Linked DNA regions of Homo sapiens. The protein of the gene in region 2 interacts with the protein of the main gene of each other region in a pairwise test. Each region holds a gene or a part of one and is shown on either strand. Other genes may lie near its edges. The genes, in order: HIVEP1, ALDOB, AGXT2, MUC20, MLH3 and MAP2K4.

Region 1 (5,550 bases), on a different chromosome or scaffold from region 2:
ATCCTTTTATGACAGGTCTTTTGTAATCACTGAGATATAAAGCTAGTGCTAAATCTATTTCTTCACAATGAGATAAAAGTAAGTATATTTGCATTGATAAAAATGATGTTTGCTGCAATGAAATTATTTTTCGATTTTTAAAAATAAGCTTCCAATTAAACAATTATTACATCTTTAATTTCGTTTCTGGTAGAAATAATGGCAATACATCTTGTATAGTCTTTTGCATGTCTGAAGCAAATTTCCTGGATTTTGTCATATTGTACACAGAGAATAACTCTGAGAAGTGGACACAGCTATATTCTTAAGCTGCTATTTTTGTTATTATTTCTGTTTCTGGCACTACCAGCTCCACCTTATTTTAGAGATTAAGAGTTACTGAGAAATTGAGATTCAAGTTGGCTATGTCAACTCAATGGGGAAAAATGAACTAAAGAATTATTTGTGAAGAGATGTTACTATGAAAAAGTTCTCTGGTTGTTTGTCTATCACTTGCAAGTTTATGAAATGTCTACTGAAAACCAGATTTCCAGGCACTGGTAAGTGTCTGAGAGGTTTTGGGATAGAGACGCTTACAGCACAATCTGCCACAATTAGGCATAAATCCTATTGCAATATTCAATACATACTAGAGGTAAGAGAACTGTCAATGAGGGAAGAATGTATTCCTCCCAGAATTAATCATTTGTCACAAAACAGCCAGAGGTAGAGCAGGGACTCACTCACAGCACATGGAGCGTGACTTTTCAGAGGCCTGTGCCTGCCTTGAGATAGTTCTTGGGCAGAAAGCTCTCCCAAGCTGCTGTAGCAATGTGATAATTCAAGCAAAGTGAACTTCTTGATGTGTTTTCGGGTCACATTAACTTTGCCATAGAAACTGGTAGCTGTCTTGCCAATGGGGGCAAAGTGCAAAATGTTTGGGTAAGTCAGTGAAAATCCATCATCACATCAGCACCAGTGGAGAAACTGCTCAGAAGGGGCCAGCAGATAAATCAGTTGCGGGACTTGTGTTCGCCACTGTCACGTTTTTTTTTTTTTTTAATTTCAAAAATTTTTCAAAAAGCAAATAAAAATAAATGGGTGTATTTTTCAAGAACCATTTGGTTCTTTCATAGATTTACAATAAAATATCTGAACTGCTTAAGATACTCAACAAGACTCCAAAGGGCAAAAATACCCTCTACCCTTAAATACAAGAAAAAAATAAAGCTATACAAACTGATTTGGCCTAAAAAAATCACTTAAGTGCATTATTTTCTTAAGCCATTAAGTTCTCCATATTTAATAGGTTAAAACGAAAAAAGAAATAAAAGAACAACTGCCAATCATTTACCTGTGTTATAGCAACAGCTTTTCCTGCCATAGAACTTCTCAGAATTTCTTCTGACTCAGGGTAGTCCACAGACATCTGATGACACGGGGACCTGGAAGTGTCTACAGACGGAATTGTGTCGTTTTCATCTCTCGCAGCACGCTGCCTGGCCTTCCCCGGAGAGAGTGTCTTCCTATTGTAGTCAGACTGTGCTGTGCTCAGGACAGTCATTCTGGTGAGCAGCGCCCTGGGCAGAACGTCCATTGGGTCCGTGTGTACCCCAGAAAAGCAATCGGTGATCCTGACATCCTCGTCAGTACTCACAGGGTCCTGAAGGCTACTTCTAGATGGAAGGTGCTGCGGGCTAGCTGTGACTGAGGGTGTGGCTGACAGGACTGATTCAGCCTGGCTGTCCTCATCATCGTCTTCATTTTCATTGTCATCCTCATCTGGGCCATCAGATTCTTCAAGATCATATCCAGATCGCTCATAACTGAATCTCTGTTTTTCATCTAATAAAAACAACCAAGAGGTATGTGATGGAATGCTTTCCAAGTGCACAAGTGCTATTTTAAAAATTTTTTATACGTTTGGCAACTCTGCAAGGATTATAAAAGACAAGGACCCTGCCCACAACGAGCCTCCGCCCTGGCTGAGAAGGCCCTGGGGAAGAATAAGACAGTTGGCCATCAGGATTCAGAGGAGGGCAGCTCTGCGGGAGGGGCCGGGGTCAGGGACGAGGAATGGGAAATGACTCTCAGAAGGGGAATGAGGCAGGTGGAGGGTAATCAAGAAACAAGGAAATGAAGGCCTCTAAGATTGCACTTGAAAATCTTTAAAACACAACTGAACTACATATAAAATTAATAAAGAGTTCAACGCAACTCTTTTCCTGAGCTTTTTCCCTATTTTGTATCTTCCTTTTACTGAACAAATTAAATCAAACACAAAAAACTGATGGCTGTTGGTATCTGTGAGCAACATACATTTTCTTTAGATTTGAATAGTATTATAGATGAGGAAAGAAAAGGACTTTTATCTGAGGAATGTGGGCCCTTTCAAATTACTAGGCCCCAAAGAGGCATTAAGATGAGACAGCAATCACATCCTACTCCACACTTTACTGAAGCTGCTTCCCATTGCCACAGGTAGCTGTGAATTAACCTAGTAATGTGGCACTGGACACTATATCCCACATTCTATAGCTTAACCGTGGACAGGCAGTCACTAATCACTGTTACTTCTGTATATCCATGAGAATTCCTGACAGAACTGTCTAACAGTCTACTCGGTAACACCGGCCCCCCTCCCCTGCCTCCTGTTTTTTTGTTTTTGTTTTTTTCTTTTTGCCTTTAAAAATCTGCCTGTAACAAAGGCCAAGCAAGCAGTTTGGGTGAGTCATCTGGGCAGCTGTCCTTATTCTGGCTCAAGTCAACTCTTTCAACCACACTTTGTGCTTTAGCTTCTTCTTTTGGTTGACACAGGCATGTTTCAATGGTCCTCCGTGTCGTCATATTCACCTAATGTGTAAGCCTTCTTATTTACTCAGAGAGATGCTACAATTTCCTGTCAATTTCTTCTGTGATATGATTCAACCCATTCCTCATAGAAAGGGGGATATTATCTAAAAGTCGTTAGTATCAGCCTCTTAACATCATGTGAAACTGAGTTTAACAAGGAATCTTCAAGATGATCCAGGAAATAGTTTCAAAAATCTCATAAGCTCATGTGGAACTTTTAAACTCTTCACATTTTCAAAATCTTGCAAATTAGAGGCTCTTTCCCACTGAAAGCTTAATAAAATTTAGTTATGGGGGAGGAATGTCACTGAGATATAATAAAGATGACATTAGACAATGTACAGTTTAGCTGTGATACATTCTGCACTTACAGGTATTTTTTTGAAAAGAGACAAACATGTAAACAGAGCAACAAGCAATAGGCTGCCTTTCCCAAATGGCCTAGATATTAATTTTTTACTTTTTCTTTGTATATGACAAAAATGAGTTTAGAGAAAAGCCTTAGAAGACCCATAGAAAAGATTGGAGGGTGATTATTTCTAGGGGATGAAAAGAACTTGACATTTTACATTATTTATCACAAACGTGTGCTACTTTTATAATTAAAAAACTCTAAGATGAAACATGCATTTAGGTTCTGTTAGCATGTGATTTCATAAGGCTTTTGCTTTTAGGGTTCTACTATTATGCTGTAAAATAAGTAATGAAATAAAATAATACCAAAGTATTGACTGGCTCTAGGGGCCTATGCTGGAGACAGAATGTGTGATTTCTGGGTAAATACCCAGACTCCTGCACCTCAGCTACTTCTCTACCTTGCCTATTTTAAAAATTTTTTATAGGTTTGGCAACTCTGCGAGGATTATAAAAGACAAGGACCCTGCCCACAACGAGCCTCCGCCCTGGCTGAGGAGAAGGCCCTGGGGAAGAATAAGACAGTTGGCCATCAGGATTGTTTGGCATTGTAAAATTCGAGTCATCCTCAATTTGACTTGAATTTGCCACATCAGTAGCAAATTAGGTATTTTTTTTTTTTGGAGACGCATCTTCTTTAAAGAAGTAAAATTTGTAAAAAGACTAAAGAGAACTGAATGACTGGGAGAATAAGTTACTGGAGAGAAAGGATGATTTCATTCAAGGCTGCTCTTGCTGTAAAGTCTAACAAGGATGGGACCTGTTTACGTTAAACACACACACAAGCGTGCACGTGCACGCGCGCGCGCACACACACACACACACGTACAGCCTAACTTTAAACTTATTAACTTTTTCCAAACCCATCAATAAGCCGAGGTCCCAGATAATCAACAGCCCAAAATCTAAGGAGACACAAGCTTGTGTCACCGAGGGCAGACACAACAGAACCCCAGTCAGGGGAGTCCCGCTCAAGTATCTGGTTAGAGTCAAGAGTGGGCTGCCAAGATTGTGTGAAACCTCTGAGGGTTACATTCTCACACAGGATCTATGCCATGACCATCACCCAGGTGCTCACAGGAGGGTGGGGTAAGAAGTGTCCGCTGTGTTCCAGATATGGGGGAGAGAAGCAGTAACTCTAGAGGAGTGGCAAGGAACTACACCTGGATCCATCTCCCCTGTCTCCACCAGGAAAACAAAAGACCTATCCTGTGAGGAGAAGGGCGGCACGCACTGTTGTCCTTAGGACACTGCTGAAAACTCACTGCAGTGTGGAAAGGGAACAGGAAAAACATACACATACAACCTGTCTCCTTGGGGAGGGACAGGATTACACAGAAACTCCCACAACACTTGGGGGAGAGGGAGGAGAACTGAGAAGGTCACAGCCCAGAAACCTAAGAAAATGGTGCAGGTACGAGACTGTAACTCAATCGGAACAGAGACAGCACCCCATCCTCCTCCTTGCCCCACAATGTCAAGCTAAGGAGCTTAGCATTACAGGTAACAAAACAGTGCTTGGAGAGAAACAGGAGAACAAGAATGTGCAGAGAGACCCTTTCTGAGGCATAGTGCAAAAGGAAGACCTAAAACTAGAACTGAACAGGTGATGTTCTTGTGATCCAACCCCCAGCCAAAACACAAGGTATCTCTACAGGAACATGAAGCCTTTCCTGCAGTGAGGATAGCTGCCAACAAATCTCTCAAACCTAGCAAACTCCTAACTAGATAAACTCTAACTCCCACACTAAAGGCCTCTAGGAAGGAGAGGCATGCACATTTCTAGGATACAAACAATTTCCATGGGTCTCTACTGTCTTACACAAGATGTACAGCTTTCAACACAAAATTACAAGGCATACAAGAAGGCAAGAAAAAAACATACTTCAGAGAGACAAAGCAATAATCAGAACCACAGTCAGATATGACACCTATGTTAGAAATGACTGAGAATTTAAAATAACTATGGTTCATATTTTGAAGGCTCTAAAGGGAAAGGTAGACAATAACAGATGGGACTTTCAGCTGAGTGCTGACAACTATTAAAAAGAATCCAATGAAAATGGTGCAAATAAAAAATATGGTAACAATATCAAGAAAACTGTTAAATCCAGAATTCTATGCCCATTGAAAATAATTTTCAAAGATGAAAGAGAAATACAGACTTTCTTAGAAAAACAAAAACTGAGGGGATTCATTGCCAGCTGCTTGACCTAGTGGACAATAAATGTTAAACGGAAGTTCCTCAGGCAGAAGGAACACAACATCAGATGGAGGCCCGGATCTACACAAACAAACAAAGAG
Region 2 (4,908 bases):
CAAGAAGACAGTATCTTTAGATTGCTTAATAATAGTTCTCCTCCTTCTCAAAAGCCCGTCACCTCCCCACAATTACATATTGCCCTAGCTTCTTTCCTGCCTCCTCCTTTTCCTTCCTTTCTCATTTCTTCCTCTCTTCCCTCATTTTCTTGCCCATTCCCTTCCTTCTTCCCTCTTCCCTCTTCAGAGTAAAAACAAATTCCTCTTTTTATTCTTTCCACAACTTAGTCATTTGTGTGTGTGTGCGTGTGTGGCCTTGGCTCTTGATAGCTTCAAAATGTCTTCTTCTCCCAGTGACTTATGAACGTATTTTCTTACACACAGGCAGTATCCTCTCTATGAATTCCTTTCCTTTTTGTTCTCCTGTAATGTCCAACCTAAATGCCATCTCTCCCTTTCCTACACCCAGACATCTGATTCTACACCCTGACTCTCCATCCCACTTACCAACCCCCAGTCAATGGTTTGTGTGTTTCTTGCTTAGCTATTTAAGCTTAATTGTCTGGTGTGCCCTAAAGCTGAAATTTCTCTATTTTTCATGTCTAGTACCAGGTTTTAGTTTTAGTAGGTGTTTAATAACTACTAAAGTAAATCTGAAAAAGTAACCAAAGCTGGGAAGTCACTAAATACTCACTCAGTAATCACAGCGAAATTGAACTCTGTAGCCTTGTAAAACACTTGTCTGCATATTACCGTGAAAGGAGGAAATTACTGGGATTAATATTTCAAAGACAACAGTAGTCCCTTAGTAGGGAAAATATATCAGATGATAGCCAGGAAAATGCATTATATAAATCCTCATTCCCAGTAAAATGTAATTCAGCCTTGACCAAAATATATAAGTAACTCATCCTTGATTATAAATTCATGGTTAACTGATAAGAATCTGAGAGGTTTCTTTAGATACCTCTTAAAATATCTAAAGAATTCAGCGATGCTGAGTAGGATCTAGATAAAAACTATCTGGCAGAAAAGCTTTGTCTCACAAGGTGTTACCTACCTGCTTTTAGGACAGCTTGGCACATAGTAGGAGATGAAGTGCTTGATGATTGACTGAAATGTACAAGGAGAAATGTACAAGACTACACCACGGGTGGCAGAGATATTGAACACAGCCTGTCACCTTGCCCTGTAAGATCTCTGGCTGTGTATCCACTTTTTGAGCAAGAGACTTGAGTTCAGAAGACCTGAATTTTAATCTCTCAGCTCTGCTATAAATGTGGGATCCTCAGTAAGTAATTTTACTTCTCTGGACTTGGTTTTATCACCTGTAAAATGAAAACCGTGGGCTTAATAGATCTCTCATATAGGCTTGAGTTGCTTGTATGACTGTCTGTAGTTGTTTTTAGAAAAGTAATGACAAGTACATGGAAATAAATATTCAAATACTGTAGAGGGCAGGTAATAAGGAAATGTCATCTTTCCTGTGCCCTGACTCCCAGGTCTTTCTCCCAGGTCTTAGAGTAAGCCCCTTTGGCTAATTCTGTCTTATTCCTCTAAATAATATGTTAAGTCTCTGTTTCTTCATTTGTTAATCTACACAATACCATTTGTCTTTGTATTATTCAAGGTAAGAAATTTAGCATACTACCATCAATATTTTAATTTTAGATATATATTTTTATGATTTACATCCATTTCTTTTATTACTTAAATAGAATTAAAGCACTATTTCTTAACCCATCAGTTTTAAGTAGTATTCCTGACTCTCTTTGCTTTCTTCCACTTCTCCTCCCCCTTATATTTCCTAGCTTCTGTCAGTTAAATCATCACTTTTATATTGTCCAAAGTTATAATATTTAAATTCTCTTTTATAACTCTGGTTGTCTTAAGTGCTGTAACTATAGGTTAATTCTGAAAATTGAAAGTCAATACAGTATCATTATGTGAATATTATTTACTGCAAAACTACGAAATATGCCTGGACGTGCAGATGACAAGGTAGTCCTGTTTCACCAAACCTGGGCCACTTGAACAAGAATGCTCCAAGCATTGAAGTCACATTAATTCTCTTATTATACTCCACAAGTTGCTCAAAATCATTCTACATTTTTAGCTGGCTTCGTATTGTGAATGGCTTTAATTTTCAAATACCCTCAAACTTGAAATTTAGATTGGTAGTTCTCAAACTTGACTGTACATTGGAATTACTGAGGGAGCTTTAAGAAATCTAATAGTTAGAGGATCCCAAGTCTAGGGTTTCTGATTTAATTGAGCTGGGGTGTGGCCTGAGCATCTCAGTTTTTAAAATTTTGCGGCTTGATTCCAATGACTAGCAAGAGTTGAAGACCTTTACTGTTGAAACCCAGTCATGTCTAGTAGAGTCAAAAGTAATGAAATACACTGAGTCTTTGGACAGCAAGAGCAGAAAAGTGAAACCCGATAGCAGCTGAAGGTTTATAGAATATTTATTTCTTTTTTGGTTGCAGCTATCTCCTTCCCAACCTACCACTGCTAAGACTGTTTCATAAGATGCACTTCTCTACACTCAGCTAATGAGGTGTTTCAATCAGCAGTTGTTCTTTGGATGAGGAGCCGATATTGTTTTAAAGCCTATTATTTTCTTGGGTGGGTATTCTGGAGCATGGGGAGCTGAAAGTGTTGCAAGGAAACTGCTGTGTGAAATTTGATCAGGTCCTTGGTATTCATTTTTATGTTTCAATAACTGATTTATTTTTTCCCCCTTGTACTTAAGATTTAACATGTGTTGTATTTCCAGCAGTTCAAATCTAATTGTGTCGAATTTCCAGGATTGGAGGAAAAGTTGCTCCCTTTCAGCCCTCCTACTAGAAGCACTGGAGCTAGGCTGGCGGGCATTGGACCCTAGTAGGTATAGCAGGCTGTGAAGAGCGACTGGGTGGAAGCAGCCCCAGAAGAACCCGTGTGAACATACTGTCCTTTGGCCGCCTGGCAGTTAGCCTAGAAGACAAATATGAGAGAGGAGACTGGTTAGAGTAAATGTGACCCCACCTTGACCCTGTCTGCCTCTCATGGGAAACCAGTCAAACCTTCACTCAGATTTTCTTCTTTTTACAGCAATGTTGCTGAATATTGCTGGGGATACCATCCCCTTCTATAAAGTATCTCCCCTTTTTATCCCAGTTTTCTGAGCATTTCTTTGGTAAGCTTGAGGTTTGTGTCAGTTACTGGGGAAATCTCTGTTCAGTACCAACAATATTGCAGCAACAGTACTAGAAACTAAAGTTGAAAAATTTCTCACTAGTATAGTACACTATACCAAAAGAAAAACATGTTTATTTTAAAAACATTTCCATTTTCTACCTATATTGGTCTAGAAGAATATGTAATTTTTATTTAGTTATTGTAGTATCATTTGCTTTCCTGTATACATTCCAGTTAAAGATAAATTCAGAATTATGAAACTTACGACAATATTTGAATGTCACTCAGTGGTACCACTTCTTCCAGTCAGTGTTGCTATTGTCTGTTCTCTCCAGGACTTATTTCTACATTTTACATCAATGGTTCTCCAACTGTGTTTCATGGTCTACCAGCATCCCTTAGGAACATGTTAAAAATAGAAATTCCCTGGCCTTACCCCTGACCTACTGAATTAGAAACTCAGTGGGTGAGACCCATAATCTGCATTTTTAACAAGCGCTTCAAGTGGGGGTAGGGGAAATGAAAAGAGGTTGGTAATGGGTACAAAAATACAGTTAGGCAGAAGGAATAAGTTCTAGTGTTTGATACAACAGTAAGATGACTATAGTTAACAATGATTTATTACATATTTTAAAATAGCTGGAAGAGAAGATTTGGAATGTTCCAAACCCAAAGAAATAATAAATATTTGGAGTGAATACCCTAATTATCCTGATTTGATCATTATACATTATATGCATATATAAAAAATCACAGATACCCCACAGATCTATACAATTATTGTGTGTAAATATAAAAGATCATGACAACAAAACCAAAATCACCTTCAGGTGATTCAGATCCACACTGGAGCTTGGGAAGCACCATCCTTGATGATAAACTCAGCTTCCCTTCTTCTGTGTGGATGTCCCTGATGACCTGCGCTTTCACAATCCCTCCATCATGTAAGCTAGGTCTCCTCAGTCCATCAGCCACACAGCAGCACTGCTGCACCCTGCTTTCCACAGTCAAGGTAAAGCACTACTTTGAAAATCTGATACCTCTCTTATGCCTGTGAGATGATGATTTAGCTTCCCTGGGGCCTTCCTTCCCTTTAGGGCCTCATCACCACACTTCTGACTACTCTTGATTCCTTGCCTAGCTTCCTCTATGGTCAGCAAGCTAACAGAGGCTATCGGTAAAATTTGTCACTCTTCTACCTTCCTATTAAACTTTCACTCTTCTACCCCGCTATTTTGCGTTCTGAATCTTCCTGCATGCTTTAGACTGCTGTTAGGAAAACTCAGGAATGAAGCTACCACACACTCACTCTTATTTCAGCTGCACATTACCTGATGCTTGGCTATGTCTGGCCATAACGTCCGATCAATTTCCTAGCAAGTTCCTTTAACTGCTTTTCTACGCTTTCCGACTGTCAGTATTGAAATTTCCATTTCTTCATCATTCTCAGCAGATACCCTCAACTGTAATCAGTCATCAACTGCTACATCTCTTGACTTATATAGAGCTGATTCCAACTGTATTCTCTTTTCTGCCTCTTCCCTCCTTTTTGTCTTACACCAGCTGTGCCACCTATGCTTAATATTGAGTCTCATGCAGTCCTGCTCCTCTAAGTTCTTCTCCACTCAATTATCCCCACTCTCCTCATCTTTACTGTCTCCTCTGGCTCCTCTTTCTTTACATTTAAACATGCCAAGCTCTCTCCTATTTGGCTAAACTCCAAGCTTCCTGGAGGACATGGCTATGTCTCATTTGTTCACCCCAGTTCTTGGCTCATAAAGCGTA
Region 3 (6,143 bases), on a different chromosome or scaffold from region 2:
GTTCACTGCAACTTTATTTTCTTTCCCCAAAATCATAATATCGAATGACAAAAACTGTTGGGCAAAGTAAATGAGAAAAATCAAATTTTTTTGGCATTTGGAAACTCTAGGGAAAATTCTCTTTGTAATGATAACGAGTTTTTCAGTATTCACAACCAGTTTTCAGCCCAGAGGGAGTATTTATTAAGGGCTTCCTCACCCTTTAAAATGAAAAAAAGATTCTAAAATATTTGAAAATATGCAGTGGACACAGTGTGATTTATTAAAATGCTAATTATTATTATTACTGAGACAGGTCTGGCTCTGTTGCCCAATGCTCATATAATGTGTGAAAATAATGACATGCTATCTCAGCTGCAATAATTTTAAAAATCAAAGAAAAGCTTTCAAAATAAATTATGGCTTTAATTTACAGATGCCCAGGGATGATTTCTTTCTTTTTTTCTTTTTTGAGACAGGATCTCCTTCTGTCACCCAGGCTGGAGTACAGTGGTGTGAGCATGGCTTACTGTAGCCTCGGCCTCCCAGGCTCAAACAATTCTCCCACCTCAGCCTCTTGAGTAGCTGGAACCATAGGCACCAGCCACCATGCCCAGCTATTTTTCTTTTCCTACTTTTAATAGACATGGGGTCTTACATGGAGTGCAGTGGTGGAATCTCTGCTCATTGCAACCTCTACCTCTCAGGCTCAAGCGATCCTTCTATCTCAGCCTCCTTAGTAGCTGGGACCATAGGGGCATGCCACCACACCCGGCTAGTGTTTTGTATTTTTAGTAGAGATCGGGTTTCTCCAGATTGCCCAGGCTGATCTCAAACTTGTGAGATCAAGCCATCTGTCTGCCTTGGCCTCTGGAAGTGTTGTGATTACAGGCGTGAACCACTAAGCCTGGCCCAAAATGCCAATTGTATCTCATTTCTGTATAGCATCTTAGGTAACTTGAAAAAAACCTTGTCACATTTGCAATCTCATTTGATACTTGGGATTGCCAACGAGTTAGGAAAGGAAGATTTCATCCTCCATCCACCTTAGAGGACATCAGTGACAGATGGAATTCGAGGCCTTGGCAGTTTTGAAGTCCCTCACTGATATTGACGTTTGAGACACTGCCTCCCATGGAGGCCTGCTGAAGCTGTGTTGGGGTTTGGACGCCTGAGGGACAGTGTCTGGTCGGTAGAGAAATTTTTCTCCTCTGCTTCTCTGTGCTGGAGCTGCCAGCTTGGAGACTCCAGAGTGGTCGTTTTCTCTTCACACATGGGGCCGCAGTCTGCAGCACGCTGCTGAGGACCCTCACCATTGCTGTTCGGTATCATCCGCTCCGGACATGATCTCTCACAGCCTTCTCTGTGGAGGTCCCCTCTGTCCCATGCGTGCTCTGGGTGCAAGGATGATGGCAGTGAATGCCAGGTGCCTGCATCCGCTAAGCAAAGCTGCTAAGAGGCGGTTCCTACCAGAAGTTACTCTACTCCTGCCTGGCCTTCCTTGGCTTCTTTGCGTGTGGGGTCCTGTCCACGTCCTCAGCCTCCTGTTGATTATTTCAGCTGCCCTCCCTCCTTCCCTCCATTCCTTCATAACCTTCCAGTATATGCCCTTTTGCTGAAGCCACACAGGGGCAGTTGTGGCTGTCCACAAGCAAGAGCACTCCTCGATTCCTGATTCTGAGGTGGGTGGGTCTTCTTCCGCACGTTCGGGAGTAGGCATTCTCTGTGATCACCCTTCCTGGCCCTTGGCATGTGTTAAATCAGTTCTGACTGTGGCAAGGCTGCCTGGAGGGGTGTAGATGGGAGGCCCCCCTTTAGGGCAAATTTTAAATGTTTTCTTAAAATAGGCTTGGCAGGAATGGAGAAACATCTCAGCTGGAAATAGATGACTTTTTGTGCCCTCCTTCCTTTGTGGGAGAGCAGGCATATATTAGGAAATTGGTACATGGGAGCACATACCCCAGCCACCTGCAAATGTTATATATTTCAGTCATTAGCTAATTGTAGGAAAGAATGCCCCACTGAGATATTTCTCCACACTTTTGTACTGAAAACAAATTGCTTCCATAACTTTGTATACACAGTTAGCCCAAAGTGATTGTGCATATCAAAGTGTAAACAAAGCTGAACATTTTATGCATATGAATATTGTACAGTAACTATGTAGATACTATACAAGAATTGTGACTTATTTATTTTTGCATATAAAACAACACTTAAAACGTGGTGACCTCCCTATCACAGCCCCTCCCCTCACCCCCATTATATTTTTCTATTCCCTTTCCAGATTTGGTTTTATTCATGGCATGTGTCTCTATTGGATACATACATAAATACATACATATTCACACACATATATATTTTTACATATTTACTTATTCATTTATGTCTATCTCCTTCCTGGAATAGAGGGCAGGAGCTTTTTCTTGCTTATTGTGGCTAAGTCTGCAGCACTGGTGCATAATAGATGCTCAAATATTTTGCCTGAATGTATATATTGCACATGGCAGGTGCTCAATAAATGTATGTTAGTGAGTGTGTGTTTGGATGAGCAAGCACAAACAGGCACAGACCTAGGTAGAGTAGGTAAGAAAGTAGACATAAAAGTCCCAAAGGTTTTTGCAAGGCCAGGTGATGAGGATAGCATTCAGTCTAGGTAGTGTGGTTTTTTTCTTTTTCTTTTTTCTTTTTTTTTTTTTTTTTTTTTGAGAAGGAGTCTCACTCTGTCGCCCAGGCTGGAGTGCAGTGGCGCAATCTCCGCTCACTGCAAGCTCCGACTCCCGGGTTCAAGCCATTCTCCTGCCTCAGCCTCCTGAGTAGCTGGAACTACAGGCGTTCGCCACCATGCCCGACTAATTTTTTGTACTTTTAGTACAGACAGGGTTTCCCCGTGTTAGCCAGGATGGTCTCGATCTCCTGACCTCGTGATCCGCCCGCCTCAGCCTCACAAAGTGCTGGGATTAGAGGTGTGAGCCACCGCACCCGGCCAGTGGTGTGGTTTTCCAAGACTGCTTCCCTGTAGTGTCCTTGCTGGGCCTATGGTAAGGCGTCGCCAACGAGTTGCTCAAGATCTCTAGGTACTAGGCCTCACCTGCCCTCTCTAGGTTACCTGCTGCTCCACTGTGCAACTCCACAATGTTCAGAGGTTGGGGTAGGGAAGGGGAGGGGGCAGTCTAGGGCATTTCTCTTGCTAGGTCAACAGCTGGTACTTTCAGCATAATTTCCTCCTCACTGAGCATAAGACTGGTTATAATTTTACCTGCTTCTGAGAAAATGTTGGAGTTAGGTGATGTTCTGGCAAAAGAAACTCATGACCAAGGGAAAAGAGCAGTCCAAACAGGATTGGAAGACTAGGGGAGGATAGACAGGGCCTGGTAGAATCTCTTCGAGTTCGGAGTCAGATAGACCTGGCTTTGAATCCCAAGTTATCACATACATGTTTCTGCCTTTGACCACATTTCTTAGATATTCCTTATTCTCTTGTCTCCTCATTTGTGGAATGAGATAATAGTACTCACTAACAAGTTTGGTTGAAGATAAAAGGAGATAATGCATTTAAAGCATCATGCATGTGTCAAGTTTCAAAAAACTGCAATTTTCAGGGGTAAGAAAGCGAAGAGGAGAGGAAGGAAGGAGGGTGAAAGGGAAATATGAGGAGAAAATGAAGGCAAAGTTGGTCACAATGGGGAATGTAAAATGGTCCCCTGTACCTGTTTACGGCCCGTGAAGCACAGGCACATAAATGTACAGACAGTTGCTTAATCTCATGTTTGCATGAGGGAATTTGCTGAGGAGGAGGTGAGGCTCTCGTGAAACAAGATCCATGTGAAAATCACAAGCATATAGGATATTACTCATAAAGCCACCAATGTCTGGTTACCCCACATCTCCTCATATTTTCTGTTCTTGCTGCAGAGAGGAGAGTCTGAGTAGATGGGGAGGGCCTGGGGTCAAGCCCTGGCTTGGATGACTCTGGGTGAATCACAGCACTTGTTGGCAATTGAGAGCGTGGTCTCACTTCCTAGAGGCATGATGAAAATTCATGCAGATGCTTTACATCTTTTAAAATAGTCATCCTAGCCTGGTGCAATGGCTTAGGCCTGCAATCCGAGCACTTTGAAAGACTGAAGTGAGAGGATTGCTTGAGCCCGGGAGTTCGAGACCAACTTGAGCAACATAGTAAAACCCCATGTCTACAAAAGTTAAAAAAGAAAAATAGCTAGGCATGGTGGCATGTGCCTATAGTTCCAGCTACTCAGGAGGCTGAGGTGGGAGAATTATTTGAGCCTTGGAGGTCAAGGCTGCAGTGAACCATGATCACACCACTGTACTCCAACCTAGGTGACAGAGGGAGACCCTGTCTCAAAAAAGAAAAAATAGAAATCATCCTTGGGCATCTGTAAATTGAAGTCACACTCTATTTTGATTGCTTTCCTTTGGTTTTTAAAAATATTGAAGCTGAGATAGCATGTCATGTTGAAATTGTGTATAGTCGGGTTTCATTATCCACGAATTTCATTTCAAAACAAAAAGGAGCATTACAAAATATTGGCTATGAAAATGGGGCATTGACTCAGGGTGAGAACCTGTGTGTCAAAAACATGCCTCATCTCTAAGACCTCACCCAGGTCTAACATTCCAGAATCCCAGGCAGCAGCCTTCGGAGCTCAAGTCTTACCCTCTCGCTGATCCTCTACTGACCCACGTCCCCCTGGTTTCCACTTACGGCTCAGGAAAGGATGCATCTCAAGGATCCTGGGAGCGGAAGTGACCAGGCACAAGGGTCTCAGCAAATGTCTCCAGATTAGAGTCATTTCTCCCACTCAGAAAGCCAACCCCCATGGAAGCAGATTGGAGGCCGGGCTCTAACTGCTCACTATCCTGCTGGACTTTGAGATTAAGATGGGGAGGAGGCGCTAAAAGGGGAATCCTGGAGTGGTGACTGCCCATGGCTTCAGGCAAGCCCCAGAGCTCTCTATTTCTAGTAACAGTGCCTTCAAGGGGGAGAAAAAGAGAGTGAGGAAAAGAGATAGAATGAAAATAGGAAGGAGAGAGAGAAGAGGAGAGAAAAGAAAGGAAAAGAAGAGAACAGAAGGGAAGAGGAAAGAAAGCAGGCAGATAAAGCAAAGGTCATCTGACAAGTTCTGTTAGTTTAATATTCCATCGGAGTTTCATCCGGGTACACTTTTCTCTGCAGGAGGGTGGTGCTGGGTGTGGGAGAAGGATCAGGACATGGTTGAAGGGGTCGGAGATTGTGAAACGAGGTATGTGACTAAGAGAGGAAAAAGGAAGATATGCATGAAGTGAATGAACAAATAAATTGGTTTTGGGGGTCTTAGAGAAAGAGAGGAGAAAACAATGGGGAAGGAGCCATTCCAAAGAAAAGCTGAGAGTACCAAATAGCTAGGTAAGGTTCTGGACAGCTGTGGATCATCTTATGTGTCTGAGGAAGGCAAAAGGTTGAGAGCTAAGGAGTTAGTGTGCCTTATTTTCATTATTTCTTAAATTCCTATTTATCCCACTCCAGCCTCCCCTTACCTTCAATCCCCATAAGCAAGTATTTAGCATGCTTATATATATCCTTTTGTTGGAACGCATTCTTGTAAAATGTGTATTGTTTAGGGTGAATGCAGTTTTAATTTATGTAAATATGTGTAATATGTCTTTTTTCTTTTCAGTTAGAACCATGTTTTTAAGATCCAACCAGGTTGCGAAGAGTACATCTCTTCTAGGTTTCCCACTGCTTCAGAATGGGGGACCACGTGCTTTACATGGCAGTGCCTAAGGGGGACAGTGACAAAGCTGATTGCAACTAGGGGGTCGAGGGACTGGGGATGGGTAGATATCATTAATCTTGGGTCACCCTGTAAGGGAGACAACTGACTTGGCCACATCCTTCACAAACACCTGCATAACAACCTTTTACTCCAAATGCCCATAGGAGGTGAAGGCACTAGGTAAGCAGAGGGAGTATGTTACATTCAATATAATTGTCCCTTTTTGTGTGGGTTTCCAGCTCCCAGTCAATTCTGCTTTGGGGGCAGTAGGGAGTGATCATATGAGCTGGCTGGTCACGTGCTGCAGGAGTAATCCAAGTCAGTGAGGCCAGTGGACACACAGCATCTCCCTGGGGTGCACAGTCTGTCCTGTGGTTGGACAGAGGG
Region 4 (5,124 bases), on a different chromosome or scaffold from region 2:
TGGAGCAAAGAAGTGGTGTGGTCTGCCTTATGTTGTAAAAAGACAGCCCTGGCTGACACACTGGGACTAGACTGGGGTGGGGGCTGAGCTGGAAACAGGGAGACCTGTAGTAGTGCAGGTGAGAGATGATGGCATCGTGGACCATCTCGGTGGTAGCACTGGAGATGCTGAGGAGGGGCCACATTCTGGGCACAGTTTGATGGCCTTAGAGCCAGCAGAATTTCCTGGTGCAAAATGTGAGAGGGGAATAAAGACGGTGCCGAGGATTTCGGCCTGAGCACCTGAAGGATGCAACTGACGTTAACTGAGATGGGGAAGATGCAGGTGGGGCAGGTCCAGAGGAAAAGATCAGAACTTCGATTTTAGAAATGTGGAGGCCAGGAGCAGTGCTCATTAACTGGAATCCCAGCACTTTGGGAGGCCGAGGTGGGTGGATCACTTGAGGTCAGGAGTTTGAGACCAGGCTGGCTGACACGGTGAAACTCCGTCTCTACTAAAAATTCAAAAAATTAGCCGAGCATGGTGGTGGCACCTGTAGTCCCAGATACTCAGGAGGCTGAGGCAGGAGAATCACGTGAACCCAAGAGGTGGAGCTTGCAGTGAGCTGAGATCACGCCACTGCACTCCAGCCTGGGTGACAGAGCCAGGCTCCTTTCCATCTCAAAAAGAAAAAAAAAAAGAAAGAAATGTTGAATGTGAGGTATGTATTTCATCAACATCCAAGTGGAGAGATTAAGAATTGAAATGAATACACAGTATACATTAATAATAATAGCTGTATATAAGGCTGGGCACAGTGGCTCATGTCTGTAATCCCAGCACTTTGCGAGTCTGAGGCAGGAGGACTGCTTGAGCTCAGAAGATCGAGACCAACCTGCTCAACATGGTAAAGCCCCTTTTTTACAAAACAAAGTACAAAAATTAGCCAGCTGTGGTCCCAGCTCCTCAGGAGGCTGAGGTGGGAGGATCACTGGAGCTGGGAGGTGGAGGCTGCAGTGAGCCATGGTCGCACCACTGCACTGCAGTTTGGGTGAGAGTGAGACCCTGTCTCAATTTTAAAAAATAAATCGTTGTATCTAAGAGGTGGGATTATAGAAAAGTTTTTCTTTCTCCTCTTCCCACTTCTTACTTTGCTTGGTCTTTGGAATATTTCAAAATTTTGAAATCATAAACAAGTTTTACTTTTATTTTAAATTTATTTATTTATGAGACAGAGTCTTGCCCTTTTGCCCAGGCTGGGGTGCAGTGGTAGGATCTTGGGTCACTGCAACCTCTGCCTCCCGGGTTCAAGTGATTCTCCCGTCTCAGCCTCCTGGGTAGCTGGGATTACAGGCACCTGCCACCACACCCAGCTAATTTTCGTGTTTTTAGTAGAGACGGGGTTTCACCATGTTGGCCAGGCTAGTCTCAAACTCCTGACCTCGTGATCCACCGGCCTCGGCCTCCCAAAGTGCTGGGATTACAGGCGTGAGCCACTGAGCCTGGCCAAGTTTTACTTTTATAATAAAAAGTAAACCATATTAATTTTTTAAAAAAATAATAGCATGTAAGTTATAACATATAAGAGGAATAATTGAGGCTTGTGTCCAGAACTTGAAATTTAAATTTAGGTCAATTCCACATTCTCTGCGATCCCACTGCAGGCCAGACACTCTGCTAGTTCAGGGGATACTGAGATGAACAAAGGTGGTCCCTGCCCTGCTGCAGCGGGCTGTTCGACAGGCTCCAGGCCCGTCTCAGTAAATGCTATCATCAAAGTCCAAACCAAGACCTGGGGGAGTAGAAGGAGGAGGTAGCAGTGAGACTATACACAATCCCTGTACTATAAAAATGGCGAAAGCATGCAGATCAATAGACAGCCTCTGGGCCACACTGAGTGAATTTTAATGCAGGATGGAAGCACACAGATGGGTGATCAGGTCTCTCTTTACTGAAACACAGAACATGTGCCAAGGTGAGTCCAAGGACACCTCTGGGAACAGGTGAAGCCCCTCCCCACACATACACTCCGGTGGATGTGAGCGAGGGTCCTGTTGCCACATCTGGGGTCAGGGGCTTGGACATGCTGCCCTTCATGGGAACCTTCTGGGTACCTCTCAGCACAGTAACGCAGCTGCAGTCTGTCGGTGGGGGCCCAGGCTAGGGGCAGCACCCTCTTTTGGCATACGGGACATGCCTGGCTGCAGCTGATGTCCGTTAGCCTCTCCTGACACGCAGTAAGGAGACCTGGAAGTGAGGCGCGTGGGCGTGGAGTTCCCGGTGGAGCTGGAGAGCAAAAGAGCCAGCTGTCCTTTCAGCCCATCTGGCCCATGAGCTCGCCAGAGGCAGAGGACAGGAAGGGACACTGGGGCAGAGTGCATGCGGAGGACGGCAACCCTTCCTGGGCCTCCTACATGCTGGACACAGGCTGGTGCCTCACACACATTATGTCATCTAAACCTCACAGCAACCTTATAAAGCAGGTGTTAGGATCCTCATTTTATAAGGGATGAAAGTCGCATAGAATAACTTATCCAAGATCACACAGTTGGGAACTAGAATTCACACCCAGATCTAGCTGGTTCCTAAGCTCATTGTCTAATCCCCGAGCCCAAACTGTTGGGCTGTCCCCGGACGAGAACTGATGCCCAACCCCATGTGGCCTGGTGCCTGCGCCTCAGCTGCTTGACCTGCTCCTGATCTCGCGGTTTCTTTCCGATTCCTGAAATCATTTCTGGTTTGGGGGCTTAGACCTGAGATTCAAAACTGGCTTCCCGGCCGGGTGCGGTGGCTCACGCCAATAATCCCAGTGCTTTGGGAAGCAGAGGCAGGTGGGTCACCTGAGGTCAGGAGTTCGAGACCAGCCTGACCAACATGGAGAAACCCCATCTCTACTAAAAATACAAAAATTAGCCAGGAGTGGTAGTGTGCACCTGTAATCCCAGCTACTAGGGAGGTTGAGGCAGGAGAATTGCTTGAATCCGGGAGGTGGAGGTTGCAGTGAGCCGAGATCGTGCCATTGCACTCCAGCCTGGACGACAGAGCGAGAATCTGTCTCAAGAAAAATAAAAGAAAAGAAAAGAAAAAGAGAAAGAAAAAGAAAAAGAAAAAGAAAACTGGCTTCCCAGCCGGACGCAATGACTCAACGCCTGTAATCCCAGCACTTTGGGAGGCTGAGGTGGGTGGATCATGAGGTCAAGAGTTCAAGACTAGCCTGGCCAAGATGCTGAAACCTGAAACTCCATCTCTACTAAAAATACAAAAATTAGCCAGGTATGGTGGTGCGGGCCTGTAATCCCAGCTACTCAGAAGGTTGAGGCAGGAGAATGGCTTGAACCTGGGAGGCGGAGGTTGTGGTGAGCCAAGATCGCACCACTGCACTCCAGCTTGGATGACAGAGTGAGACTCAGTCTCAGAAAACAAAACAAAACAAAACAAAACAAAACAAAACAAAACAAAAGCAATTGGCTTCCCTCTCCCACAAGGATTCACACTCGCTACTTTGATTATCACATGCCGGGGGCATTTGTCACTTATTTGGCCATCGGGTGTCGAGCCCCCGTGCCATGTTTAGGGAACTCCTCACAGTGGGAGTCACGATTGGCCTCACTGCTGCTAAGAGAACTCCAAGGACACAGACATCCCTTCTTCCCGTCCCCTGGCACCTGGCTGTGGGCTCATGGGAGTACAAGGGCTAAGCTCAGCCTATCAAATGTTCCTACTCAGGACTTTGGCTCTGGAGCAAAAAGTCCAGTGAGACAAAAAGGCAGCGAGAACCTATGTGAATGTGTGTGCAGGCCACGTGATGCCCCTTGGCTGTGGCAGCATCCAATAGTGACTGACCAGCAAGAGGGACAGTGTCCCAGCCAGCCTGATCCCACTGTCTGGACCTCAGAGCTCCTGGGGGCCCTCCTGCCTATTTTCCAAGCCTGCTGTCCTGGCATTGCTTTGATTCTATGCACTCTGGGACGCTGCCAACAAATCCCCCTTTTACTTACGACAGACAGAGGTTTTCTTTCGCCTGCAACAAAGGATCCCACTCTCCACGGACATATCTTGCTTCCCTCTGCTAAGGGCAATCATTCCACCTGTCCAGCCTGGCTATGAACTCTACACCTGGCATAAGACCCCCAGCCAGCATCTCTGCCAGGTTTACCCTTGCAAGGGATGACAGGAAGCCTGAGCCACTTTTCAGCAGTGTGGCACCCATTGACTGTGAGAGGTGCTGAATGCAAGCTTCAGGTATTAGCAAGGGCACTGTCCCATTGACTGTGAGAGGTGCTGAATGCAAGCTTCAGGTATTAGCAAGGGCACTGTCAAAGAGGCAATCCACATTAGACTGTGCACTGGGCCTGTTTTCACGGTTACATCTGTGAGCAGAGCTTAGACACTTCCCATCATGCCCCATCTGCTACTTTGTACCACACATTAGGAGAACAACCCACCCCTCAGTGAGGCCAGGCCCGTGACATCTGCACTGAGCTGACCCAGTCTAACCTCCAACAAGCCACACCATCCCCATCCTCAAAACCCTGACCCCGGAACTTTACCATTGGAAGTTCTATCCAGTGGGTTTTAGGAGAATTTTCCCAACTTGTACAAATACATCCCAATCATGGTCCTCATCTAGAGTATACATCTCTGCGGTTTTTTCTGCCTAGCCTCCCTATTTTCTTGGGGCTCATCCTTCCTCTATGGGATCCTGACTGGGTTGTCAGTCATGGTGACCCTTGCAGGCCATGGAGACCTGCACTTCCCCAGATGACATGAAAATTTGGGGAGAGGGGGCCGGGTGCGGTGGCTCATGTCTGTAATCCCAGCACTTTGGGAGGCCAAGACGGGTGGATCACGAGGTCAGGAGATTGAGACTATTCTGGCTAACACGGTGAAACCCCGTCTCTACTAAAAAAAAAAACATAAAAATTAGTTGGGCGTGGTGGCGGGCGCCTGTAGTCCCAGCTACTTGGGAGGCTGAGGCAGGAGAATGGCGTGAACCCAGGAGGCGGAGCTTGCAGTGAGCTGAGATCGCACCACTGCACTCCAGCCTGGGCGACAGAGCGAGACTTCGTCTCAAAAAACAAAAAGAAAGAAAGAAAAAGAAAAAAGAAAAGAAAATGTGGGGAGATGGAAGTCCCTTGTGAATCT
Region 5 (5,550 bases), on a different chromosome or scaffold from region 2:
GGTCTCGAACTCCTGATCTCAGGTGATCCGCCCGCCTTGGCCTCCCAAAGTGCTGGGATTACAGGCATGAGCCAACCCGCCTGGCCAATTTTTTTTTTAAGTTTTCATTATCTGGAATTCTTTGTTGTTTTTGAGATCAGAATCTCTACTAATGATACTCAAGATGGGTGTAACTACAAAATCTGCAGATGTTGAAAGAAGCAAAATGGATCTGTTGAAATTTCTCTTTTTTTCTTTACTTTTTTTTTTTTTTTTTTTTTTTTGAGATGGAGTCTTGCTCTGTCGCCCAGGTGGGATTGCAGTGGTGCAATCTCGGCTCACTGCAGTCTCCCCTTCCCGAGTTCAAGGAATTCTTCTGCCTCAGCCTCCCAAGTAGCTGGGACTACAGGCACCTGCCACCACGCCCGGCTAATTCTTGTATTTTTAGTAGAGACAGGGTTTCACCATGTTGGTCAGCTGATCTTGAATTCCTGACCTCAAGTGATCTGCCCTCCTCAGCCTCCCAAAGTGTTGGGATTACAGGCATGAGCCACAGGCCCAGCCAGAATCTGTGTTTTAATAAGATCCCCAGGGGGTATGTGATATGAACGTTTGAGAAGCCCAAGTCTAAGGCAGGATAAACATGGCCCGAGGGGAATCTGGGCATCACCTCTTTCTGTACAGCCAGGGAGATGGGAATGGTTTTTACATTTTTTAATGGTTGGGAAAAAAAAAGAAGACTATTTCTTGACACATTAAAATTATATGAAATTAGTATTTCAGTGTCCATAAATAAAGTTTTATTGGAACACAGCTACGATATTCACATATTGTCTATGGCTGCTTTGGCTCAAAAAGAATTGTTGAGTAGGCATGACAGAAATCGTGTGGCCCAAAAAGCCTAAAATATTTATGATCTGGCCCTTCAGAAAACGTTCTCCGGCTTGTGATCTAAAGTGCACTGGAAGTACATTCTTTGTGGGTTTCCAAGTAGCTTGTACACCAAGGTTAGCTGATTATAACAATGTGTTGTTTAACGATCCTTTATCATATTAAAGTTGAATTAATAAGGCAAAATCAGTATTTAAACATAAGAATTATATATTCAAGCTTCAAACTTGAGGAAATGCCACTTTGACTTTTTTTTTTTTTTTTAAGATGGAGTCTCACTCTGTCACCAGGCTGGAGTGCAGTGGTGCAATCTCGGCTCACTGCAACCTACACCTCCTGGGTTCAAGCGATTCTCCTGCCTCAGCCTCCCAAGTAGCTGGAACTACAGGCGCGTGCCACCACACCCAGCTAATTTTTGTATTTTTAGTAGAGACAGGGTTTCACCATGTTGGCCAGGATGATCTCGATTTCTTGACCTCATGATCCGCCCGCCTCAGCCTCCCAGTGTGCTGGGATTACAGGTGTGAGACACTGCACCCAGCCCTGACTATGTTTTCTAAATGAGATGCTGGTGAACTAAAGAGTTTCTTAGTTTACCTTTTGTTTCCTAAAAAATGAAATTATGGGGAAAATAATAAAACTTATAGGATAAAAATTAGTAATACTGGTAATCTCTGGAGAGAGAAACTAGAAGGGGTGGGGGCAAGAGTATAAAGGAGACTTTATTAAATTCCCTTTTGTGCCTTTCAGAATTGGATCTGGGATTCAAACATATGGGATAAGTTTGCTATCATTTTCCCCATAATTTCATGTTTTAGGAAATAAAAGATACAATTGTTACTCCTCAGAATGTTTTGTCTTATGCTGTTGTTAGATAGTTTGAATTAAGTCTTCTCTGTCCTCAACACACATGATGGTTGTCGTCTTGCTCTGAGAATCAAAGTTCACAATCCTTGCTCATCTAGGTGGGAACCTGCTCGTGCTGGTGGATCAGCACGCTGCCCATGAGCGTATACGTCTGGAGCAGCTTATCATTGGTAAGGATCTGTTTGCAGCCAGAAAAAATTTGAGACTCCCAGCAGAATCAGTACACCTCAAAGAGCTTTTCTAACTGCAACTGTTGTGAGAAAGCACACTTTGTACTGTATGTTCAAAAATTAAACTAAAGTCCTGCAGTTTGGCCTGTGTTATAATTGAAAGAATGTGGTAGTTCACTAATTGAAAGATGTGAACTTATTTATGTGGTCAGAGGCATATTTGCCAGATGTTATTAACAACCCAGAAGTACGCAAGGATAGGCTGCTTACTCTGACATCCAGCACAAAGCTCTGCCCCTCCATATGCCCGGTGATCTTGGCATGCCTTCCCACACTCCATCAGGCAGAGACCAGTGGCAGCTCAGAAGGCCCAGTATGCTGTTTTGATTTTAAAATTTAGTTTGCTTTTGAATATGCAGTATAATCAAATAGATCCAATTCTGAAAGGCACAAAAGGGAATATAATAAAGTCTCCTTTCTATCCTTGTCCCCACCCCTCCTAGTTTCTCTCCCCAGAGACAACCAATATCTCTGGTTTTTAAATCTATCTTTCCAAAGCAATATATGCTTTTTAAATGTTTTTTTTTGCTACCCTTTTCCTCATCATGAGGCAGTGTGTTCACCAAGTGGTAAAATACCAGGAAAGTCTTTACTCCTGTGGCCAATGAGTAATGTCAAAGAGTTAGGCAAGGACCTAAGGAGTGCTTCATGGACTAGAATGGCAATGATATTACTACTGTTTTCACTTTTCCTTATAAAATGACGGCCTAAGAGTTGGGAAAGATATAGTAAAAACAGTGTTAGAAAAACTTACCTCTACAGGCCCTGCACCATTTGAGAATAGTACTAATTCTCTCCAGAGACTGGGAGACCCTGCTCAAGGAAAGGGAAGCCTTCTGGAGCCATAAGACTGTGTGGTCAACCCACATATGTTCCTGGTAATCCACATTATTCACCTCTGTCATCAAAACAACATTTATTAACTACAGGAACATTGGCTTGTTCATCTGAATGTAAGATGCAAGTCTTATATTTCTTATTTTGAAAAATACTACCAAAATTGTTAATAGGCTGAATATTTATTAGTTTGACTTTAAAAATGGAAATCCAAAATCTAAAACTGAACATTAAACATTCTGCTTTGCATTAGAATGATTATCTCAAGGCCGTGCTTTATTTTTATCTGAATCTAGAAGACTTCCCTTCCTACTCTTAACCCATTCATCTTTCTGCCAATAGATTCCTACGAGAAGCAACAGGCACAAGGCTCTGGTCGGAAAAAATTACTGTCTTCTACTCTAATTCCTCCGCTAGAGATAACAGTGACAGAGGAACAAAGGAGACTCTTATGGTCAGTACCACCATGAGAATGTGATGTTGATGGTATCAATTCTCACAATAATTCTGTGAGGAATAAGCATAACTATTGTTCCATTTCTCAGATGAGACCAAGAGAGGTTACAAGACTTGTCTAAGGTCATAGCAGTTATTAAGTAGTGGAGCAGGCACTCAAAGGCAGGTCGTCTGACTCCACAGGCTGTTTGTTTCCTTTTTTAAAATATATTTTTTTCTGCATCCAATCATCCATTAAAATATTTATTTTGTGAGACATGGTCTCACTCTGTTGTCCAGGCTGGAGTGCAGTGGCACAATCTCTGCTCACTGCAACCTCCACCTTCCAGGCTCAAGCAGTCCTCCCACTTCAGCCTCCCAAGTACCTGGAACTACAGGTGAGCACCACCATGCTGGACTAATTTTTGTAATTTTTTGGTAGAGATGGGTTTTCGCCATGTTACCCAGGCTGGTCTGAACTCCTAGGCTCAAGCGATCCTCCCACTTTGGCCTCCCAAAGTGCTGGGATTACAGGCGTGAGCCACTGGACCCAGCCTATTCTTTCCACTGTATCCCAGCTGAAGAGTATAGGATAGAGTTTCCCTGATAATTTTTTCCAGCAGTTGGCTTAGAACACTCTTCTCATTTCTTGGAACAGTCTGTGTTTATGCCATGCTTTGTGAAAGCAAAGTTTCTGCAGTAATTGGTCCCATTCTGCTTTGCTTTGGTGCATTCTAGACTCTTAGTTTTCATTATCGTAATCATAATGGGAAGAAAGTAAAACATTGGGATGTAAGGAAGGGGCGAATCATATAGTGAGTCACAAGATAGGATATTTTTCCTCTTCTAGGCAGCACAAATTATTGAAAATGAAAAAGAAATTTCTCCCAATATGTTTCAGGTTTGGGAATATGATACTGCCAGTAAATCTTTTTTTCCCTATGACATAATTTATATTAGAGGCAGATCTATTTACTTACATCCCGTTAGTCAGGACTTCTCAATTCCTTGGGCTGTTAATTACCTCCCTGCTTTAATGCTGATTCAAATCACTCTCAGACCTTTTCTTCATGCCAGACTCCCTTAAGTGCCAGCAGCCAGAAGTTAGCAGTTCCTCAATGAAGAAAACACACTTAGAAACAAGACTTAGACACAGATTGATTCCCAATGGAAAAGAGAAAAACAATAAAGGTTACTGTAATTCAAAAAGGAAATTTGATAATAAAAAATCCCAAACACCCACACATAAGTGTGAGAAAAACAATACGGTTGTTAAGCCCTGTGGCAGCTTTTGAAAAACTATTAAGTAGTATTTGGAACCAGTAGTGAAGTGCAAATGAAGTAGCACTCTTTTTTTTTTTAACATTTGAGGTTATCTCTTTAGGTGTTACCACAAAAATCTGGAAGATCTGGGCCTTGAATTTGTATTTCCAGACACTAGTGATTCTCTGGTCCTTGTGGGAAAAGTACCACTATGTTTTGTGGAAAGAGAAGCCAATGAACTTCGGAGAGGAAGATCTACTGTGACCAAGAGTATTGTGGAGGTAAGACACAGCTGCAGATGTTAAGGAAATTGCTGAGTGATGGTAACCTCATATTTTGTCTGTAGATTCTCTGAATTCATCTTTTCTTCAACAAGTATTCATGGTATTTACCTGCGGTGTGCCAGGAGCTAGAAATTCAGAGATGAGTTAGCTCAAAATAAGGAAGAAGGGCATTTAAAGAATTATAGTCAGTGAACTTTGGCTAGTAGAGGTATGTGTTTTGCTTTCTTCCCAGTGATAAAGGTAATGAAAACTAAGAGTCTAGAATGCACCAAGATAGTTTTTCAGAAGTGTTATGGAAACACAGAATGACTTGTGTGCCTGGGGAGGTGAAGTCAATGAAAATGTCACAGAAAAGCTGTTTTCTTAAGAAAAGTTTTTACTTTTGAGAGACCAGGTCTCACTCTGTTGCCCAAGCTGGAGTGCAGTGGTGCAATCATAGCTCACTGTAGCCTTGATCTCCTGGGCACAAGCAATCTTCCTGCCTCAGCCTCCCAAGTAACTCGGACTACAGACACGCACCACCATGCCTGGCTAATTTTTTCCTTTTTTTTTTTTGTAGAGATGGGGGCCTCACTATGTTGCCCAGGCTGGTCCTGAACTTCTGGCCTCAAGCAATCCCCTTGCATTGGCTTCCCAAACCCCCGGCACTACAGGCATGAGCCACTGCACACAGCCAGAAAAGTCTTACAGAATAGTGGGAAACTAGGCTGGGCAAGGTGGCTCACACCTGTAATGCCAGCACTTTGGGAGGCCGTGGTGGGTGG
Region 6 (4,106 bases), on a different chromosome or scaffold from region 2:
AAACATGAAGCCATGAAAAAGTATTCAAGGTTATCCAGTGCCCACCACAGTGCTTACCACATAAGAGGATGTCCAATGTCTACTGCATGAAACATTCCTTATGTTCCACAACTGAATCCTGCTGTTTCAGAGAGCATGGTCATTAACAACTCCCAGAAAGGAAGTTTTTTGAGTGGCAAGTATAATTAGATTGGGGGAGAAGGAATGGAAGTACATCAAACATCTTCTAAGGCCCACTCTGTGAAGTCTGATCTAAAGCAAAAGAAGACCCTTGGCAGATGAAGTACAGTATGGGAGGTGTGACTCCCATACAATTGGATGGGAATCTTTCTTTTTGGGTTCTTATAAGATTTCCTCTTCAAGGGCCTCACAATTAAGATACAGAACAAAACAAACCAAAAAGAAGGATCCTAAATTGCTGCTTAAGTTCAAGCTTTATAACAGACTGTTCTAGACAACATCCTGAGAATATCAAGCACTTCATTCTGACTAATGAAAAAAGTTTCAAGAACAAGATATAACACATTCCTGAATCAATCAAGACTAGACACAATATTGATAAAAAAGAAAATTCGGCAATAATTCATAGAGAGGTCTTAGGTCCTTTTTCCTTCTAAAATGGGTTCTGCTTATTAGAAAGTTTAGTTAACTGGGTATCAACATACAAGGGCTGAGGAGAACGGACAGCATCAGAAAAAGTCCTAACCACTGCCTTAGGAGTTCCTAGAACACTCCAAGCTCTTCCCTGCTTTGGAACCTTCATACACACAGTTCCTCTGCCTAGAACCGTCTTCAGGTAAAAGAGGGTTAGCTTTCCAGACAAGCCTTCTCTGACCATCTTATCAAGCGGACTGCCCTCTATTATCTTCTATCACAAAACCCAGCTTGTTACCTTTATTACTTTTCCAACTAGTAATTTTTCATGTTTAGCTAAATAGCCTTCCCTCCCCCATCTTCACAGGGGGATAACCTCCATGAGGACAGTTAGAGATGTTCAATTCTCTATAAACTCAGCATGAGCGTTTTATGCAGATGCTCAATAAATATTTTTTGAACCAAAAAAACACACTGTATCCAGCTATTTCAAACTGTCAGCCTCCCCACCAATAAAACAAACAAACAAATCACCTTGTTTTTATAAGCTTTGTAAGTCACCCATCTGGAACAAGAAATACAATCCTAAATTGTCATTTTGCCATTTCATTTCGCCCCAACCACCACCACCTAAATTGTAAAGCTGTACAGTCAGGAAGTCAATCTTATACTTCATCAGTATAATGTGCTGTGCAACACAGTGGGCATCCAATAACTAATTCAATTTGAATGAATTATCTGAGGGCCTGCACAGAAAGTGTCCTCTAAGCTCTGACATCATCCTGTCTATATATCTATCACTGGTTTTTATGTATATTAAAATTATTTCATGGGGAGGGTGACAGGGATGTAAAGATAAATAAAATCCTGTCTCTTCTTTCTGAATTATGGCATGCTCTATAAACATGAACTATTCAATAAATGTCTGTTGAACCTAACTAAATGCTAGAAGCCCTTTAAGAGGAATGGAATCAAAAAGTAACCATGGTCACACTGACTACCAAGGGTACCCCAACCCTTATTCTGTTAATAATTCAACACAAGCAGTTTGCTAAAGTTGTCAAGAGAGTTCTGAGATTCCCTGTTTTAAAAATAGCATTACTACTCAAAATTCCCCAGTAAATTTAAGGAAATGGTCCCTAACAGGCTCGGGCCTGGCCTGGTATTTTCACAACACCCCCTGTCAAAAGCCATACACAGCTAATAAGCATTCCCAGTGGGGAAAGTCATTAATTAGCAGAGCTGCCTCAAATGTCCAGACACTACAGTATCACTTTGACCCCTGTCTATTTCCTGTATCTCTCCATTTAAACCAAATTAAGTCTTCTTTTTTTTTTTTTTTTTTTTTCTTCCTGCACGCAATGCTAACACAGAAATCCCTGGCCTGGAACAAAATGCCTCTCCCAGGCCAATGCAGCCTACCTACCTTACAGGTGGCACAGGCCTGGGCAACCCGCCCCCCACCCCCATCCCTTCCAGCGCACAGAAACCCTGCAAAAGTTTGAAAACGCAGGTTCCAAGAGGCCCCCGTAGCCCGAGGTCAGCTCGGTGGTCCGGCTCCAGCTGTGCCCGGCGACAGCCAAGATGGCCCTGAGCGGGGCCCACTGCGGCGGCGGGGCCGAGGGGCGCCGGCCGGGGCCGCTGTCTTCGCCGCCTACCTGAGCGGCGTCAGGGACCAGGGGGCAGGCCCGACGCCCCTCCCGCTCCGCCGCAGCCCCGAGCCGGCGCGTTCCCGGAAACGGGGGCCGGGCGGGCGCCAGGTAAGCGGCGGGGGCGATGGGGACGGCCGCGGGGGCGGTCCCGGACCAGGTGGGCCCTGCGGGCCTGCTGAGAGCCCGGTAGGGCCCAGGGGCCAAGCGCAGGCAGAGGCCGCGGCCGGGGCCTATGCGGGCCGGAGCCCGGATCCAAGCCGGGCCGGAGGCGGCCGGGAGCGGGGCGGGAAGCCGGGGAGGGAGAGAGGGAGAAGCCGGCGGCTGCCGTGGCTTCCTCAGCCGGGTCCGGGGGCGTCCGCTGGGGCAGGCCGCGACGACGCGGGTTGCCGCGCTAGGGGGCTGGGATCTCGGCGCGGCCGCGTTCCTTACCCTGCATGCTGCTGACGGCCGGGTGGCCTGGCGCCGGGGACCCTACGGGGCCGGGGGTGCCGCTGCCGCTGCCGCCCCCGGAGCCGCCGCCGCCGCTCGGGCTCGGAGCCGCCATTGTTGGGAGTGAAGAGCCGAGCGGCGCCGCGGCGGCTGCAATGCAGCAAGCTCGGCCTCTCGCACGGCCGAGGGGCGAGGCTTACCCCCGCCTTGGCCCCGCCTCCGACACGCCCCGGACACGCCTCCTGACACGCCCCCGCCAGAGCCCGACGCGCAGCCCGGGCCAGATGCTGAGCTGCAGAACCGCCCGGCTCTGGGTGCGCGACCTGTGAAGCAGACAGCTGTCTTGGACCAGGGCTGCGGGCCCGCGGGGCCTAAAGTGGTTTGCAGAATTAAAGGTGGGCCTGCATTTGTGCGGAAAGAAGGTACGCAGCTTTCATCATTCCCATGGAGGTCTGTGACTCCCAAAAGTCCACTTTGTTGGAATCTCAGAACCCCAAATCAGAATAGTAAAGCTGAAAAGGATCCCAGGGATCCCTTTCTCCTCCAGTCGCTAACACATCACTTCCAGAAGGGAGTTACCTAGAGCTATGGTTACAGTCTGGAACTCCTCTTAAGCCCAATACCCCAACCCTCTACACTTCTCTGAGGGGAAAGGGGAGTCCCAAGGGGAACTAACCAAAGTGCTGTCCATGGACCCATCCCAAAACTACTGAATTAGAGGTTACATTTTAATAATACCACCAGGTAATTTGTATGCCCATTAAATTTGAGAAGCATATATTTAAGCACTCGACACTTCCCAGCCTCCTGAAATATGCTATCTACATCACCATCTTCCCCTAAATGCACACTGGATTCCCTCTCCCAAATCCTTTACATCTTGTATAAGACGAGCCGTAGTCATTATTGTAAGTTACATAAAATGACAACCCCAAAAAACAATATGAGGTTTCTTCCATTGCTTTGCACAGAGACTTTTATTTTAGGAAGACAGTAGCTAAAAGAAGAAAAAGTTCTCTATGAGGCTACGATTTGTAAGCCAACCATAATGTACTCGAAATGGTAAGACATGGGTTTCTGGCCAGGCAGCCTTGCCTAAAATGGAATAGCCAGTTATCCTACTTCCCAAAGAATCTAAGCCATGGAGCTGGACATTTTCTCCCATTTAGAAGCATTGTGTGATCTACAGCTAGACTTCTTTCCCAAAACTTCTTCCACCCAGATGTTATTTGATGCTGAGAGTTCTTCACAGCATGTTGGAAATGTGTCCTGGGTCAAAATAGCCCTGCCTTCTTGTTCCAAACCCAATTTCATCCATCATCTTGATGGCTCAGATCCTAAAAGTGGCTAGCCGTAAACATCAAGTGGAGAGGCATTAAAGGCAAATTGAAGGTGAGAGCAGGTAGGTGTACTTCAGTGGAGAGCCCGCCA

The links.
Region 1: the proteins of ALDOB (region 2) and HIVEP1 interact in a two-hybrid assay, tested with the Homo sapiens proteins (one large-scale study listed by BioGRID and IntAct).
Region 3: the proteins of ALDOB (region 2) and AGXT2 interact in a two-hybrid assay, tested with the Homo sapiens proteins (one large-scale study listed by BioGRID and IntAct).
Region 4: the proteins of ALDOB (region 2) and MUC20 interact in a two-hybrid assay, tested with the Homo sapiens proteins (one large-scale study listed by BioGRID and IntAct).
Region 5: the proteins of ALDOB (region 2) and MLH3 interact in a two-hybrid assay, tested with the Homo sapiens proteins (one large-scale study listed by BioGRID and IntAct).
Region 6: the proteins of ALDOB (region 2) and MAP2K4 interact in a two-hybrid assay, tested with the Homo sapiens proteins (one large-scale study listed by BioGRID and IntAct).

Annotation. Positions count from the first base shown.
Region 1 is NC_000006.12:12,157,713-12,163,262, reverse strand, and holds part of HIVEP1 (zinc finger protein 40), read right to left. Parts: intron 1,825-5,550; coding exon 1,334-1,824; intron 1-1,333.
Region 2 is NC_000009.12:101,418,986-101,423,893, forward strand, and holds the end of ALDOB (fructose-bisphosphate aldolase B), read right to left. Parts: intron 2,920-4,908; coding exon 2,824-2,919; 3' UTR 1,575-2,823; downstream 1-1,574. UniProt on the Homo sapiens protein: Catalyzes the aldol cleavage of fructose 1,6-biphosphate to form two triosephosphates dihydroxyacetone phosphate and D-glyceraldehyde 3-phosphate in glycolysis as well as the reverse stereospecific aldol addition reaction in gluconeogenesis.
Region 3 is NC_000005.10:35,043,100-35,049,242, forward strand, and holds the start of AGXT2 (alanine--glyoxylate aminotransferase 2, mitochondrial isoform a precursor), read right to left. Parts: upstream 4,851-6,143; 5' UTR 4,794-4,850; coding exon 4,706-4,793; intron 1-4,705. UniProt on the Homo sapiens protein: Multifunctional aminotransferase with a broad substrate specificity. Catalyzes the conversion of glyoxylate to glycine using alanine as the amino donor.
Region 4 is NC_000003.12:195,730,291-195,735,414, reverse strand, and holds the end of MUC20 (mucin-20 isoform a precursor), read right to left. Parts: intron 2,266-5,124; coding exon 2,197-2,265; 3' UTR 1,864-2,196; downstream 1-1,863. UniProt on the Homo sapiens protein: May regulate MET signaling cascade. Seems to decrease hepatocyte growth factor (HGF)-induced transient MAPK activation. Blocks GRB2 recruitment to MET thus suppressing the GRB2-RAS pathway. Inhibits HGF-induced proliferation of MMP1 and MMP9 expression.
Region 5 is NC_000014.9:75,029,776-75,035,325, reverse strand, and holds part of MLH3 (DNA mismatch repair protein Mlh3), read left to right. Parts: intron 1-1,835; coding exon 1,836-1,907; intron 1,908-3,146; coding exon 3,147-3,258; intron 3,259-4,610; coding exon of another isoform or gene 4,611-4,623; coding exon 4,624-4,783; exon of another isoform or gene 4,784-4,784; intron 4,785-5,550. UniProt on the Homo sapiens protein: Probably involved in the repair of mismatches in DNA.
Region 6 is NC_000017.11:12,019,571-12,023,676, reverse strand, and holds the start of MAP2K4 (dual specificity mitogen-activated protein kinase kinase 4), read right to left. Parts: upstream 2,801-4,106; 5' UTR 2,791-2,800; coding exon 2,676-2,790; intron 2,355-2,675; exon of another isoform or gene 2,150-2,354; intron 1-2,149. UniProt on the Homo sapiens protein: Dual specificity protein kinase which acts as an essential component of the MAP kinase signal transduction pathway. Essential component of the stress-activated protein kinase/c-Jun N-terminal kinase (SAP/JNK) signaling pathway.